Regions from separate parts of the Homo sapiens genome. Here region 1 is linked to region 2. A link means that fine-mapping ties the variant in region 2 to the expression of a gene that starts in the linked region. Tissue or cell type: whole blood. Region 2 holds a variant in brackets; the other region holds the start of a gene. All regions are shown on one strand. Distances are from middle to middle.

Evidence for each region. PIP is the estimated chance that this variant, and not a neighbour inherited with it, causes the effect.
Region 1: SYN2 starts here. The variant in region 2 is fine-mapped to the expression of SYN2 in whole blood (GTEx, PIP 0.93).

The regions. Positions count from the first base shown.
Region 1 is chr3:12,000,255-12,008,434 of GRCh38, reverse strand. SYN2 (synapsin II) reads right to left here and starts at 4,047. Exons shown (of 13, transcript NM_133625.6): 1 at 3,507-4,047. The coding sequence starts at 3,883. RefSeq lists an enhancer at 2,848-3,348.
Region 2 is chr3:12,183,453-12,191,632 of GRCh38, reverse strand. SYN2 (synapsin II) reads right to left here. Exons shown (of 13, transcript NM_133625.6): 12 at 4,021-4,264; 13 at 1-1,143. The coding sequence ends at 1,008. Among named protein-coding and RNA genes, the nearest start is that of TIMP4, 29 kb to the right of the region's middle. RefSeq lists enhancers at 3,807-3,946, 4,147-4,256. The variant AGAGGAGGAAGAG/G (reference allele first, on the strand shown) is at 4,161.

The DNA of each region.
Region 1 (8,180 bases), 180 kb after region 2:
AGTAAATTTTTTTTCAAAAGTATTTATCTTATCTACCTATCTGGACAGCAAGCTCTTAGATGGCAGATACTGTGTCTCATTTTTCTTAGTAAATATCCCCTATACAGAGAAGGTGCTTCATAAATATCTGTTGCCTTATATCTGCAGTCTGGACACTCAAGAGTACCTGTGCTATACTGAATCAAACACTGAAACATCATGCCAGGATGAAAAGCTCACTTGATCACTGGGGTCAGAATCTCCGGAACAAAGGCAGGACAGAATCTGAGAGAAAACGTATCTCTTCGCTGGTGAGAGTATAACACACAGAAGAAACAACATAAACACCTGTTCCTTGTTTAAGCACGATCATTAAAGTGCAATCTTAATTGCATTTCAAATTTAGCCATGAACCTTAAAAGAGGACATTTTCTGACAATATTTACAAAATACTAATAATAAATAATAAGGTATATAAAGAGCTTGATTTCAATTTTTAATGGCACAGATAAATTTTTCAACGATCTTTTAGTGTGCGATTAATCTAAAGATCTCAAACAACCAATGAAAACATTTCCAGCAAAAGAAAAACATCTTCCAATTTTCCCATCAACCTGGTCAGTGGTGGGGTCTCCAATTGCCCACAATTACAATGACAGAAATTCAAAGGAAACTGCTGTTGTATTAAGGATGCTCTGAGAGGCTGCTTATTTTAAGCCCTTCTTTTACATCTCTTGCTATTTAAATGCTTGTTCAGACTCTTTTTATTTTAGCATTATATAATTCAGAGGGGACCAATATTCTTAAGTTCTAATGAGTCTACACTCTGACTTCCTATTCCAGCACCAGAAAAATAATATAGGGCATATACGATATCACTCATTGAATACTATCTAGGTAGCTTAAACTGTGAGACAATTTTACTAAAATCAGTCTTCAGTGCAAAAATCACCTGTGTAAGTCACTGCGCTTGTCACGGCAAGCACCTGCTCCTTAACTCATAGAGACTTTTCAATAAAACCACTCATCAATTTTTAACTGAGATTTTTTGACAAATTTAGGCCCATATTAGAAGAGCAATTCTGGGAACTGCTATTAAGCACAGAAACACAGGAGCAAAAAACTGTTGTCAAGAACTAGACTTGAACTGGGCTTATGAGTTTTAATAAATCAATGTTATTACTTCAGAGAAAATAGGAAAACAGTTGGGAGTCAGCCCACGGGAAAGTGGCTTCTATGACTTCCATCAGAGGCTTCTAGTCTCCAGGGCAAGGCAAATTCTCTAGTTTATGCCAAATAGGCTTCCTAGAGAATACTATCCAAAGAGAGTTTCAAATCTTAAGCTACAGAAGCATTTATAACTAAACAGAAATCTGCAGCAGCTTCATCATACCCATACAAATAAGTATCAGTACCTATCTATAGATACCTAACTGGCAATAAGACTCAAAACAAGTGCATTTAATAGGATAAGAAATCAGGACAAGGTACAGAAGGGTCAAATTCCTGCACAGAAAAATAAAGCACGAATGTCATTCTCATTTCTCCTCTTCCTTTTCTTGGCCTTTCTTCAAGATTCATCTTTTGTGAAGCTTTCTCCAATAACTCTGGCTCTCACTAACCACTCCATTTGTTGACTGCCTGAAACACTAGTCTCAACCAATAATTCTAGATTTCTTTTTAACTGTTTCATGTATCCACTTTGTGTCCCAATTTGAGTGAGTTCTCTTAAAAGGCCCCCACACTGCCTAGAGGGAGCTTGTTATTAATATTGCTAATAATAATAGTGAGGCAATATAACACAGTGGAATGAAAGCAGTGGAGTCAAACAGGCCTAAGTTCAAATCCTGCTTCTACCACTTGCTGGCTACATGATTGTAAACATATTACTTACCTTTCCTAAGCCTCAGTTTTGTGAAGAAAATGCAATGAGATATCATGCTGAGAGTACAGCATTTGGCATATAATGGATGCTCTGACTGAGCACCTTTACTAGCTTGGTTACCTTCCCTTCCTCCGTAATAAGCACTTGTTGATATGAACTGAGTCAGAGTAATTCTAAGGAGGGCTGCCAGTGGCACTATCATATGCATTACACTTTCCCCATTACCCTCTTCCATGTGCCTTTGTCATTTCCTGGCAAAAGTCCTTTCGGATTTTCTACTCTACTCTCTTGAAAAGGCCAACCACATAAGTCACCCAAAGGACTATTCAGAATGGTGACATTAGCAGCCAGCAGGAGGGCATCTCCACATCTGCATCTCATTTCCACCACACCCACACGCCAGCACTCCCTCCCTCTGGGTCTCCCAAAGAGAGAATGCTAGAGAGAGAAAGCAGTGAAGCAGCCAAAAGAGGAAATGGAGAGAAATAGCTCTGTGGTCTCTCTGTGCACCCCTCCTGGGAAGAACACTCAGGTCCAGTCTCCAACCTCAACCCCTATGAGAAAAAAAAAAAAACAAAACCCTTGCTCACATTCCTGGAGAAAAGGCACCCCCAGATTCTCGGCCTCTTCATTTCTCCAAGCCCTTCACCTATCAATTTCACCATCCCACCATTCCCTAGGTTAACTATAAAATAGAGCCGCTTTTAACTAATTTGTCTTCAGTGGACCTCATTCGTACTTTTACCAAGCAGCAGCCTTCACCATTCTAAGTTGGAAACATGCTACCTATCTCTTTAGAAGAAAAAAAAAATTATTGAAGTTTCCCATCTACTACATTAAGGCAGGTCTCCTTTTATTTGTACCCCTTTAATGATCCAGTATATTTTACCAAGGTCTTCATCTTTCAGCTAGAAAAAGCTACCATTCACTTCCACGCCCCGCCCCCCACCACGCACATTTCAGAAAAACAAGCAATCAAAAAAAAAAAAAAAAAATTCCACACGTCCCCTCCCTGCTGCACAAAATACAACAATTTTATTATTCATAAAGAGACTTCAGCCATGCTCCGGGGAACAAGCCCGTGTACACCTGGGCCACTACATGTGTGATTTCATCAACCTGATGTCAATACTTGATATCAGCCTTCATGGGTCCTGGTTAAAAAAAACCCACCACCACCTTCTCCCTCCAAAATACCAATTTCCATTCCAAATTCACTCCGTGCTTCATGAAGTTAAACCTTTTTTACTGGCCCTAAATGTTCCTTCGGCCTCCTGGGACTATTTCACTTCAGATTTTATGTGTCTAAGCTAACAAGTGTGTCCCCTCCTCTACCCCCAAAAAAACTATTTCCTAAGGGCCTTTCCTGTTGCATAAAGTAGCTCCTTCTTGTATGGGACCTGGGGGACCTGGGGCAATTGAGGGGTATTTTAGCTTTGGGTTCGCCTTTCCGGGCTGATGGATGCCCTCCCTCACCCCGCAAACGCGCGCGCGCTCAGCCCGCACCTCCTCCCAGCGGGACCTCGGGGACCCTCCTTTTTATTGGTCTGAAACGTTTCCTCGGCGACCTGGGACCGTCCTCTCCTGGCCTGCGGCTGCCGGCGGACCCCGACCCCCGAGGGCGGCGGCGCCCGGCACCTACCAGTCGGCGTGCGGCTCGTCGACCACCAGCAGCACCTTGGCCTTCCTGGCGGCTGCGGGCGCGGGAGCGGGCGCGTCCACCAGGCCAGCCGAGGCGGCCGTCTGCTTCACGGCTTGGGACAGCGAGCTGAAGAAGCTGCTGCCCACCGACGGCGTCGGCGCGGGCTGCGGCGCGGGCGCCGAGGCGGGCGGCGGCCTCCGCTCCGGGCCCGGCGAGGCGGTCGGGGGCGCCGCCGAGGCCGAGGCGGCGCCCGGACCGGGGGGCGGCGGCGGCGGCGGCTGCTGGGGCTCGGGCCGCTGCAGGTCGGTCATGTAGCCGTTGGGCAGGTTGGCGATGAAGCTGCTGTCCGACAGCCGGCGCCGCAGGAAGTTCATCATCTGGCTTAAAGGGCTGGGGGCGCGCGGGGCTACGGGGTCTGGTGGCGCGGAGGGAGAGCGAGGGCGGAAGGCGAGATTGAGGCGACTGAGGCGGCTGAGGCGGCGGCTTAGCCAGCAGAGACTCAGGCCCCGGCACCAGACCCCGCAGACAGCAGCGGCGGTCTGGGCCAGGCAACCCGCGCGGCGCGAGGCTCGCGGAGAGGGAGCGGGCGGGGCAGGGGCGGGGCCAGAGATAGCCCCCGCCCCGCGCCGCAGAGGCGGCCCCGCCCCGCTCACGGAGGGCACCTAGCCGCGCGTCTGGCGACTCTCGGGGCTTGCAGGAGGGGGCGACCCAGGCCTCCAGCAACCTGAGCGTGACTATGCGGGGAGGGCGTGGGAGCCAGGCCTTCTCCCCAGGGGAAGGAAAAGGAACCAGAGGCCCCACCATCTTTTTGGTTGGAGAGAAAAAGAGCCGTGTCCCAGCTGAAATGGAGGCGAAGGAAACCGACCCCACTCCTTTTGGAAGGATAAGAGGTGTCAGCCTCCCTATGCGGAGGTGAGAACGAAAGGAGTCATCCCAATCACGCGCGCACACACGCACACAAGCACGAACACCCTGTAGTGAGGAGGAAAAGAACCACCTCCTTTCCCAACGCTGGGGAGAAAGATGTCATCTCCCCAGCCCCCAGAAGAGGGGGAAGGGAATAATCCGCTGTTACTAACACACACACACACACACGCGCGCGCGCGCGCGCACACACACACACACACACACACACACACACACACACACCCTATGGTGAGACAAAAAAGAAATACCTCTTCTAGGGAGGAAGGCAGCCTCCTTACTCCAAGGCGAGGGAGAGGAAAGGGGAGAAACAGATCCTCTCTACTCTGTCATGGAAGGAGGGGTGGGGTGTGTTTTCACTCCTGCACTTCTAGGGACAACAACAGTATGTACTTCTCTCCCCCTCCTCACTGACCAGTGAGAGAAAACCAAGAGAAGACTGGAGACATGGTCTCCACCCCAAGAGGGATATCTAAGGATCCCCCAACCCCACCGTGTTTCTTTCCTAGCATGCATTGATGCATCCAGTGCTATACCAAGAAGGACATCTCTTCAAGATCTTTCTACTTGTTTTTTCCATTTTATTCGTTGCCTTGACCTCTGTGAAGACATTTCTGATGGCCACCTTCCCATGTGCACTCTCTAAATCTTGCGTGACTCTTGGACCTTTAGTTTTCATCTCTCATTAGATATACTTTCCCTTGTGTTGTAATGGAGCAGGACACAGCAGATAGGCTTTACAGCAGACTACCCCGGGTGATATGTGACCCTGGATCAATAACCCCTGTGAGCCTCTCTCCTTAGCTGATAAAAAGGAATAAGTAACCCTTTCCAGAGTTGTTACATGGAGTAAATGAGATCATGTATGTAAAGCATCTGGTACACAGCAGTAGGTATTCCAGTAGTGATGCCTGAATTCTTTTTTCAATTGGTTCTCAGTAAGTATGTACTGGGCTGAATGGAGTCAGGGAGTGGCTTGTCACTAATGTTGGTGGGCAGTTCTTGCTTCCTGTATCCCAGCTGGCACTCAACTCAGGGCCTAGAGATACACAATCCAGCTCTGAGCCGGTGCTATCAGAGAAGTCTCCAGTCAACTATAATAACACAGTGGTCTTCCTATCTACTACATGCTTGGCACAGTGGTAAGAGCTGGAAAGGCTGAAATGAATGGGAAGTGGCTCTTGTCTATTGCAAGTTCATGATCTATGTGGGCTGGGGGATGGAGGGAGGATAGACACAGGAACCACATAAGATGTGAGAAATGCTATCATACAGTTGGGCAAAGAGGGTTAGGAGGCCTAAGGAGGGAGGGACTCATTCTGCCTCTGAGACTTAGGAAGGCCTCTCAGAGGAGGTGACATTTGAGGTGGATCTTGAGGCAGCTATGTTTACCAGTAGAAAAGTGAAGAAGGCAGGCAGGCAGGCAGCCAGAGAAGGCATGGAGAAGGTATGTAAGTTGATGGTTCCTCCAGGAAGCCTTTCGTCAATCCTCCAGGGCGGGCTAAGTGTTCCATATCCTGTGCTTGGCTTTGTCATAGACCCCAAAGAAACTATCATACAATATTCTGGTGACTAGAATGTAAGCTTTTCTAGGACAGGATTATGTCTTAGTTATCTTTGGGCTTCACACCAAACACAGGACCTGGCATGTAATAAGGACTCAGTTGTTTGAGAATTGAACTGTAATCTTACCCAACTCGGTTTTTGTGTTTATTGGAGAATAAAACTGATAAGTCACTAATAACATAATTAAATAAACTTAATTATTGCCCTTCTTAAAAAAAAATTTTTTTTTTGAGATGGAGTTTCGCTCTTATTGCCCAGGCTGGAGTGCAATGGCACGATCTCAGCTCACCACAGCCTCCGCCTCCCGGGTTCAAGCATTTCTCCTGCCTCAGCCTCCTGAGTAGCTGGGATTACATGCATGCACCACCATGCCCAGCTAATTTTGTATTTTTAGTAGAGATGGGGTTTCTCCATGTTGGTCAGGCTGGTCTCAAACTCCCGACCTCAGGTGATCTGCCCGCCTCAGCCTCCCGAAGTGCTGGGATTACAGGCATGAGCCACCACGTCCGGCCATCAAAGGCATGTATCTCTAATGAAGGGATTTCAGACACTGTGTCACTTCAATTTTGGGGGTGATAGGTTTTTTAAAATAATATTTCAGTAAGTAATTTCCCCAACCGTTAAGCTTATAGTATATGCATATATTTTTAAAATCAACCAATTAACAGACGTGTTTTCATGCCTAATACATGCAAGCCATTATGCTAGGGACAGGAGGGTAAAGGAGATTCAGGGATGAATGAAACCCAAGTTCTTAAGAAGACAGCTCATAAACATGTGAACACATAACTAGCAATAGCAGAGCAGCCTGTGAGTGACCTGAAAGTAGAGCAGGCAGTGAGTGTTAAAGGAGCCAGAGGAAGAAGAGATCTCAGGGACAGGAATTTTCACAGAGAAAGAAAGGCTCAGGCCTTATAAAATGGGCGGAATTCTGACAGGCAGGAAAGAGTGGATGGAGAAGGCAGCCAAGGTAAAAAGGATAGCCAGAGCAAAGGCTATCCCTTTGAACTTCTTGAATCTCCTCCTTGAAGGCAAAAACCTTGTCTGTGTTGTTTCTCACTGTCTTTCTTGAGCTTTTCATGGCACTGGCATATGCATTCTAGTGTTTGTAGGGGTGGCTCTGAGAGGCTGTACTTATGCATATGTTTATGTTGCTAGTGTCTGTCCAGCTTCTCTTTTTAGATTGCAAGCCCCTCAAGGTGAGGGATTCTGTCTTCTGATTTTCTCAGAATGATCTACAAAGCCTCTAACACATAGTAAGTGACCCAGTTGTGGGAGCTAGATCAGAATGTTCTCTAAAATGTTATTTTAGAGCCCTTCATAGAAACCATGGAGGCCTACAAGATCATTTAAAAATGTTTATCAAATATTCCATTAATTTATTACATTGTTTTCTGGTAGGTTTTAATAAGAATATTATTCTTGTGGAGGAACAGACTGTTTTCATATAATTGGGCATAAGTGGTCATTGATCAGTTGTGTATGATCAGAAGTTTTCATTAGTTAGTACAACTGTAAATCACATCTGCTTAAATCAGTATCTTCCGGCTTGCAGTGAGTCCTTGCCAAGAAGTGTTTTTGCATGCTGCAGAAACATGCAGTGCATCGTGTCTTATTATAAATGGGCTGTAATGACAATATTTCCCTTATCCTTACCTGTGGATCTGGGTTCCCGATACAGGTAGAACATAGCACTATTACTCTGTCGCCTACCTTTTACCTGGAATATGAAAGGATAACTGGATTTGGACTCAGGAATGTCTATAAAATATGAAATTTTCTACCTATCTCCCTCTTAAGACCAACCAGCATTTTCCCGTCATCTCCAGGTAGAAGGCATTTCTCCCACAGCAATCGGTGTAGGGGGTCTCTCCCACCTTTCTTCATCCCTCAGTGTCTGACTTAGCCACTGAGATTCTCACTGTGAGAATCTCAGAGGTCTCTTCCAGTTCTAGAAGCCCAGGACTCTTTGAGATCCTTCCTTTGTAATCTTTATCTTCCCACTGAATTTTGAACACAATTAAGCATCTGGCAACTGCAGATGAAAGAATCCTGCTAAAATCAAGCACCAATTTAAATGCTTTATCGCCTGATTTCTCTCTTCCCTTGAGCAACAGTGCAGCTGAGATAGCTCACAGAGAGAGAGGCTGGGTACATGACTGAGGAGCAATTTTGTCTCTGTAG
Region 2 (8,180 bases):
GAGGTGCGAGGAGGCCCAGAAGTGGTATGTAAAGGACAGACACATTCTCAAACACTTGCAAACACATGTACACCTGCAGTCACACACACAAACTGACACAAACAGCTTCACACACCTAGATTTTTCACTCCCTACACTCAAGCACACACACACACACACCCCTCATGGACACTCTCTCAGCCTAAAGGGTGGCCAAGGGGTCAAGACCTCATGGCTGAATCAAATGTTGGTGAATGCTGCTGCTTTTATTACACCAAAGGTCTTAACGTTTATTAGGAGATGAACACAAAGCTTGGCATACTGCTGTCATAGTGGCATGCATTCTCCTCTATAGTGCAGCTCTGGAGTTCAAGGTTACTGCAGATTGCACATAAGAACCACTCTTCAGAGGGGAGAAAAGGGGAAACTGCAGATCCTTGTTCTCCCGAATATCAGCAGACTCAAGGTGCTTCACCACCACAGCAGCCTAAGATCTTGTAAGTTGGGTGGGTGTGCTTTAAACAGTAACACAGGTATGACAAGGGATCCAGGTCGGGGAAAGTTCCTAAAACTTAGGGCCAAGAGTACTTTTGGGGAAGTATATACTTCCCAAACAGGTATCACTGAATGGGGGCGGGGCATGCTTAGCACTGCAACTGAGCTAGGTTAAGCTGCCAGGAGTCCACGATTAATCCTGGTTTCACAGGGAAGAATAAGACATGATGGCACTGTCACAATAAGGCCACTAAACTCACAGCGAACGATGACTTCAGAAGGAAGCTCTCATGACTACAGGGAAGCAGCTCTTTCCTCTCTGATGCCAGGTACCCCTTGCTGGGTAGGCACCTGCCCTGAGACTGTCAAATGGTCCTTTCTGGGCTGCACAACATCACTTAGTACAACAGAGCAGAGGAAGGGACCACACACGTCAAGGTCATGGGACATAACCACCAAGCTGGCTGACTGTTGTTGGTGAATGTCTTAGATGCCTTTCCCGGTTGGGCTGGGTGCCCCGTGTGTCTGAAGAGCTAATCTGAAAAGAGGCTGGCAAAGGACTTCCTCAAGCTCCGGATGGTCTCTGCTTTGGCTTCATCCTCATTGGCTGAAGACCGGAAGAAGGAGGACTCAGAGAAGCTGAAGGCATTTGTCAGGGACTGCGACTTGCTTGAAGATAAAAACCAGAGAGAATGTGAGAGGGTGGTGTTCCCAGCAAGGCAGGGAAGGACGGTGACGTGAGGATACACAGCTAGAACCCCCACTCCCTCCCTGGGAAACCAAGGTGATGGAGGATAATGCCAGAAGTGGCCATGCTACCAAGACCCTGGGAGACTCCTACGCTACTTCCTCAACTTTGGTGCTACTAGAATAGAAAGGGTGGGGACAGTGTGGGAACAAGGGAGAAGGAAAAAAATAAAGAAGGGAAAGAGGAGGAAGAGGCGACTCAAAGGCCGCTTCTTTAATTTAATCTGAAATGCCCAAGGGCTAAATTTCACAGATCCCAACTTGGTAAGAACTAACCTAGGAATCTCACATTACTTTTCTGATGAAAAGAAGTCACAATGGGCCTGTGATGCTGGCATTGTCTTCTCTATCAACTGTCAACTGGTGGAGCCAGATGAGAAGACCTGGGCCAAAGTCTCGTTTTGCCACTCACTCCCTCCTAACTGGAGGCAAGCCACGTGCCTCTCTTTGGGTTCTCATCTGTCAAGTTTGGTAAAATGAAGATCTCTAGGCACTTTTGGCTCTTTCTATTCTGATCTCTTCTCTGATTCCAAAAGAATATATTGGCTTGGCTCAAAACTCTAACACTTCAATTTCCCTGTTCTCTTTTTGTTTGTTTTGTTTTGTTTTTTTTTGAGACAGAATCTCTGTCGCAAAGGCTGGAGTGCAGTGGTGCGATCTCTGCTCACTGCAACCTCCGCCTCCCGGTTCAAGCGATTCTACTGCCTCAGCCTCCCAAGTAGCTGGGACTACAGATGGTTGCCACCATGCCCAGCTAATTTTTGTATTTTTAGTAGAGATGGGGTTTCACTTGGCCAGGCTGGTCCTGAACTCCTGACCTCATGATCCGTCCGCCTCTGCCTCCTAAAGTGCTGGGATTAGAGGCGTGAGCCACCGCACCCGGCAATTTCCCTGTTCTTAAAATGGATGTAGTAACCACCCTTGTAACCCTCCTCAGAAGAGCGCTAATATGAGGTCTATGGGGTTCAGGGTGTCCAGTGGCAAAAGAGATATATATCAGGCCTTTACAAGTTTCTTAGGGAGTTTTCTAATGAGAAAATCCAAACTACAACATTTTAGGGGCCTATTCTCCCCTTGAGAGACTAGTGGTTCACAGAGAAAAACCATGAAGCACAAGGCCATGGGGAGGCCCAGCCTGTACTCCAGGAGAGGACATGAGGTCTGGCTTCTCCAGCGGCCCAGCTTTTCTCCTTCTTGACTCCTACTCACTCCTGCTGCTTTCTGGCTCCAGAACTCTTCTCCTGGTGTCTTGGGACTCTCAGCCCTCCCTTAAATGCTGGGTGCAGCTCAGGAGAAACTCCCTTCTACAGAACTGTGAGCAGTCTCTCTCTGCCTGCAGTGACTGTGAACAGACACCCTGCCTTTCATTAGGGCTGGGAACGAGACCCAACACGCTGGCCTCTGGGAGTGGGGGCACTCCTCAGCCCGCACAGGCAGAGTACTGGGGATGAGCCTCCAGCTTCTCATCAGAGGTTGGCTCTATTCAACAGCTTCAGCCCAGAGGCAGTGACAATCCAAGGATCTGCCCTCACGCGGGGGCTAGAGTTGGCTAGTGGGAAGGCAGGAGGGATTAAAAAAAAGTCAGCAGGCAGGAAACAGCTGGGCTGAAGGGACATTATGTGGCAGGCAAGAGGCAAGAGGTGCCACTGGCCCGAGCTGGGGAGCAAGAGTGGGTGATGCCCCTCCCATCACACGGGACTGGAAGACCCAGAGAAAGTGACCATCTGGACACCTGAGCCCCGCAACCTTGGCTCTGCCACTAATTAGAGGAGTAGCTCGGCTTTGAGAAAAAAAAAAATTTTTCTTTGAGCAAAGTTTTTCTCATCTGCAATGACTACATGATCTCCTAGTGGCTCATTTCAACTCCAGAATTCTCCAGCCCCCTTTTCTCCCTCCCTGAAGAGTCATTTGTTGCCCGTCACCTCACTCTGAGAAGCAGGGGTGTATCACTACCATCCCCTTACCATCCCCCTAAGGCTACGGCTGTCTGTGCTGAAGGTGGTGACAGAAGTCTGCTGGGGACACTGCACAAGCAATCAGAGGCCTCTGTGGGAGAGAGGGCAGAACTGACCATCGTCCACATCCAGGTGCTGTCCCTCCCAAAGACAGCTCTGCTGCTTGCAGGGGTCTGTGCAGTGGGGCAGTGTGGAGGGGCTTCTAGGGTTGATTGCTGGGTGTGGGGGAACCCAAGAGGATGGAGTTCCTCAGCGTCTCTGCCTGGGAACTCCTCTGCTGCCCACACCAGAAACTGACCTCCTTTGGACAGAGCTGAAGGTAAAATGTTGAAATGGATTTAACTACTTCCCTCTTTTCATTCTGGGCAGCCTTACTGATTGCATACTCTGAACTGTGAGTCAGAGGCAGAAAGATTAAAAATTTTTTTTTACAAAGAAAGAAACACACACAAAGAAAAGGAATGGAAAAAAGAGTGGGAGACAGGGTTTAAAATAAACAAACCAAAACCTTAAGCTAGTACAAGACTAGAGAAGGGACAGTGACTCTGCCGTAGTGCCACTTCCCAGGAAGAAAGGGAAGGGGGTTGAATTTCTAGCTAAACTTTAGACTTTCACTTCCCTCTTTCCTCCCTTCTCCAGTGAACCCTAACCACTCCTTTAACCAAACACACACACACACACACACACAAAAACCAAAAACAAACTAACAAAAAAAAACCAAATCCCATCACAAAATATCTGTAGGAGGAGACCTGATTGAAGGTGATTTCTAGCAGCTCTGGAGCCCAAGGCCCACAGGAAGGGTAGGAGGAGGGGAGGGAGGAGCTGCTGAGTTGTCTCTTACTTGAGCTGTGGGTGAGGCTGGGGCTTCTGTGGTGGAGCAGCCAGGGGTGGCTGGGCCTCTGCCAGGGAGCTGCTGCTGGAGGGTGCATCTCCGTGGGTGGTGGGGCCGCCCGGCCGCTGAGGAGCCGAGGAGGAGGAAGA[AGAGGAGGAAGAG/G]GAGGAAGGTGGCAGTGATGGTCCAGGGGGGAGCCGGCGTGGAGGCAGCACCTTGCCTGGGGGCTGCATTCCTTGGGGTTGCCCAGGGCCCCCTAGGTTCAGTACAAGAAAAACTTCATAATTTAACCATATAAAAATGTTTCCTTATTAGAATTTATGCCTCAAAGGGTGTGGTTAGTTAATTACCCAAAGGATAAGCTCTATTCCAAGAAGCTGGAGTCTCTGAAGGGCCCTAAAGGGGGTCCTTGGTTAGCTATCCTTGTATATAGCCACTAAGTGCTTCTCCTCAGAAACGGAGCAACTCAGCCACAGCAGCAGTCAGCAGGACAAGGAGGAACCAGGGACGAGCGGCCCCGTCAGAGGCGCACTCTCTCACAGAGGGCCCTAGAATGCAGGGTCCTCTCCCCTCCTCTCTAGAGGTGTCTCAGGCACAGACCACCCTGCTCCAGGGTTTATTGGGAAGTCTCAAGTTCCACATGGCAGATGCAGGAGAGTGTGGTGGAGAGAGCACTGGATCTCAGAAATAGTCTACCAGTGACTCCCTGAGCAAGTCACCAAACTTCCCTGGGCCTTGGTTTTCCCAAACATAAAACTTTAAAAAGTGTAAGCCCTGGTCTTAGTTGTCTTTTAAGGGGTAGTGTTTCAAAGATAATAGGGTTGAGCAAGTTCTTCAAAAAGTATTCCGTACCTTATGATCACCTCGATGGTCACTGACATATGCTGTTTTATGGAGCTGCCCTTGGTCCTGCTCCAAGCCTGCGTGGGTCTGATTGCCAGGCCCACCATGCCCCACCAGGGCTTCATTTTAGCATTAACTCATGCCCACAACCAGGAGAAATCCATTCTTCCTAGGCACTGTTTTGCCTCTCAGTAATATCCTCAAGGGGTTCTAGCAGGATGAACCTCTCAGCCATGTGTGGTAGAATTCTCAAGACATCCAAACCCCACTCTCCCCTGGGGATGTTGTGGGTGCCATTTGGCAAATGAAAGCCCCCCTAAAAAGGAACAGCACACCCTCCTCCCAGCATGAAACACTAAACCATCTGGTGGCCTGGAGAGGAAAAAGGTCCTCCTTCCTCTGGGAGTTGACAGGCATTAAGGTGGTACCAGATTGCCTAGAGTTTGCTGAGGAGGGTCCCAACGCTTAGAAATCAAAAGCCATCCCCATTAGCACCTACTGACTAGTGGAAATGATGCACGACTGCCCTGGGAGGTCCAGTCTCTCAGCCTCAATCCCACAGTCCACATCCACGGGCCTGCTGGAGGGAGTGGACTTACAGAAACTCAGCACCAGCTAGTTGTATTATCACTTAGTTTTTAAGAAACACCAGAACATCTGCACCCTCTGGAGAGGCAGAACTGTATGTCTATGCCACTGTGCACCCATGACTATCCGCTCAGTTCCCCACTATAGGGCACAGAATACCCTTTATCATCTAACCAAATAATACCAGAGTTAGTTACAGAGAAATAAACACATACATAAATCAATGGAATTCTGCAGGTTTAAGAAGCTCCAAATTCAAATCAAATAACTAGTGAAGATGATAGATTAGCAGATTATTTCACATTAACCAGCTTTTGCCACTTCCAAAGTTTGGCATCATTTGCATTAGCATTCTCCTGTAAGGTAATACAGGTTAATAGCTCAGTCTCTTGCACCAGAAACCTGAGTGCTTTCCCATTTGTGCAGATACTTGGATAGCCAGAAACGTTACAACTTAACACTGAAGACAGATATAACTTTTCCTTTATTGCACATTAAGCTGTACAAGAGTCACAAAAGAGAGGTACTTCAATCATACTTCCAGCATTGGCTGAGGTTCTCCCAGTTGGATCAGTACAAAAAAAGGGGACAACGTCAGGAAAGAAATAGGTACAAAACACCTGAATGGCAATCCTATACTGTGACACAGATGTCCCCCAGGCCACAGAGTTGTCCCTAAGCATGCTGCCTGAGGGCACATAACAGTCAGGTTATGCTATCTGCTTGCATTTGGCAGTGGGAGCCCTAACCAATTTCTCCCCCACCTGAAAGACCTTGACTGACACCACCCTGTAGCCTGACTGAATTCAAATGGCAACTTTGCATTTGTGGCTCACAAATGACACATGAAAAGCACCAGATGTACACACTGATAACATGCAGAGAAGCAATACCACCGTCAGCTCATCGCTTGGACAAAAATATACGATAAAATAATGTATTCCTCCATTCTGGGAAATGTTACTTTATTCTATCGTTTCATCAGATTGGGAGGTATTTAAGGACCTGATTCTTATGCAACCCATCTGGAAGTGCAAATATGCATATATGTATATATTTACAACAGATCAACTACCATTATCAGCTGAGGGAGGGATTACAGATGACAACATTCACACTCAATGCATTTCTCTGTGGCCTCAGAATTTACCAGCAATCAAAGGAGAAACCAAGGCACAAGCCCCTGGATACGTAACTCTTGTTACATACCACCAACACTAGTTCCTTCTCAGATCTGGGAGTTCAGAACGGTGACATGACAGTATAGAGGTGGAAGGGAATGTAAAAATAGAGCCAGCAGCATTTCTTCTCAAAGGCAAGCTGCTGGCATGAACTTCCACGGACCATGGTGTTTGTTAGAGGCGGCTGCTTGGTGCCCGTTCCCAGCCTGGCCGGGAGATGGCAAGATGAGGCACTGAAGCTGAGGCCTGGTTTAATGAACTGCCTCAGCATCTGCTCAGGTGCTGCTTGTCAGAGGGAAGAGAACAAACTGGTGAGGATTCCTCAAGAGCCACCGCTGTGGAGCCTCTGTCCAAAACACACACAAGCTAAATCTGAGACAGTTCCTCCCAGGAAAGAGAAAGCTCCTCAATCTTTGGACCCTGGAGGGCTGTGGTAAACAGCTGAGAACTGAAGCAGGAGTCAACCTCAAGGTTCTGTAGGCAGTGTACCCACTCAAGTGACATGGGACATTTTTGATTTGGTCTCCCATTATGAGGCCTCAGGAGAGGCCAAGAGCAGAATGGACAAATCCCTGACAGACCTTCAGTAGCTCCCTGCATTCTATGTCCAACATTGCCAAGGAATTATCTCTGTACACAGGTCAAGCTTTGGGAACAGAAAGCAGCCTCAGGTCCACACAAGCGCACACATGGCTGGATCCAGAAACAGCAACAATGAAGAAACAACTGAGATCAACACACACAAAATACTCACAAGTTCACTTTGATATTGCACATCAGCGGCCCCATTTTTTAAAAATCTCATAGTTAATTAGTTAATAATAAAATAAAGGGTACACTGGGATGTAAAATACAGAACACATTCCTGGAAATAGCTTGTTCTTTGTATTTCATGTCATCACTAAAAACACAAGAGCTCTACAGGCACAGCCAGCCTATTCACATAAACTCAAACTGCACCAAATTTTAGCAAATGGAGAAAAAGGTGGATGCCTTCAAATTCAGTGGATGAAGCTATGGAAGTTTGATCTTGAAAATCTCTTAATGTTCTATCTAGTTACAATAGTCATGCAGAAAGAAAGCGAAAAGCACAGTTCATTGAAGATCCCAAGCACACTGGTGGAGGGAAAGTTGGAGGTGGGGGATTTAACTGAGCTTGGGGGGAGGAGAGGAGTTGGGTTTTCTTTTTGTGGTTTTCGTTTCTCCCCTGTCCACCCCCCTACTCCCATTTCACCCCACATTATATATTACTTTTAAAAACACTATCAAACCACCCAGAAGATAAAGTCACACTGGACTTGGGAGAGGCACAATTCTTTTGTATACTGTTGACAAACAGCCCTGGAATCACAAGTTATACAGAGAAAACATAAGTGAGCATTACAAGCACGAACAGGAACAGGTAAACAACCAGACAGAGGAGCTGACACTGCATAGGAAAAACACAGTCCAGTCAGCATTGAAAGAACGCAGCAACGGCACCAGTGGGAGGGTCTGTTTTCCCCTCCCCGCTTTCCTTTCGTTTGTTTTTGGCTTAAAATTTCTGCTTTGAAAAATTAA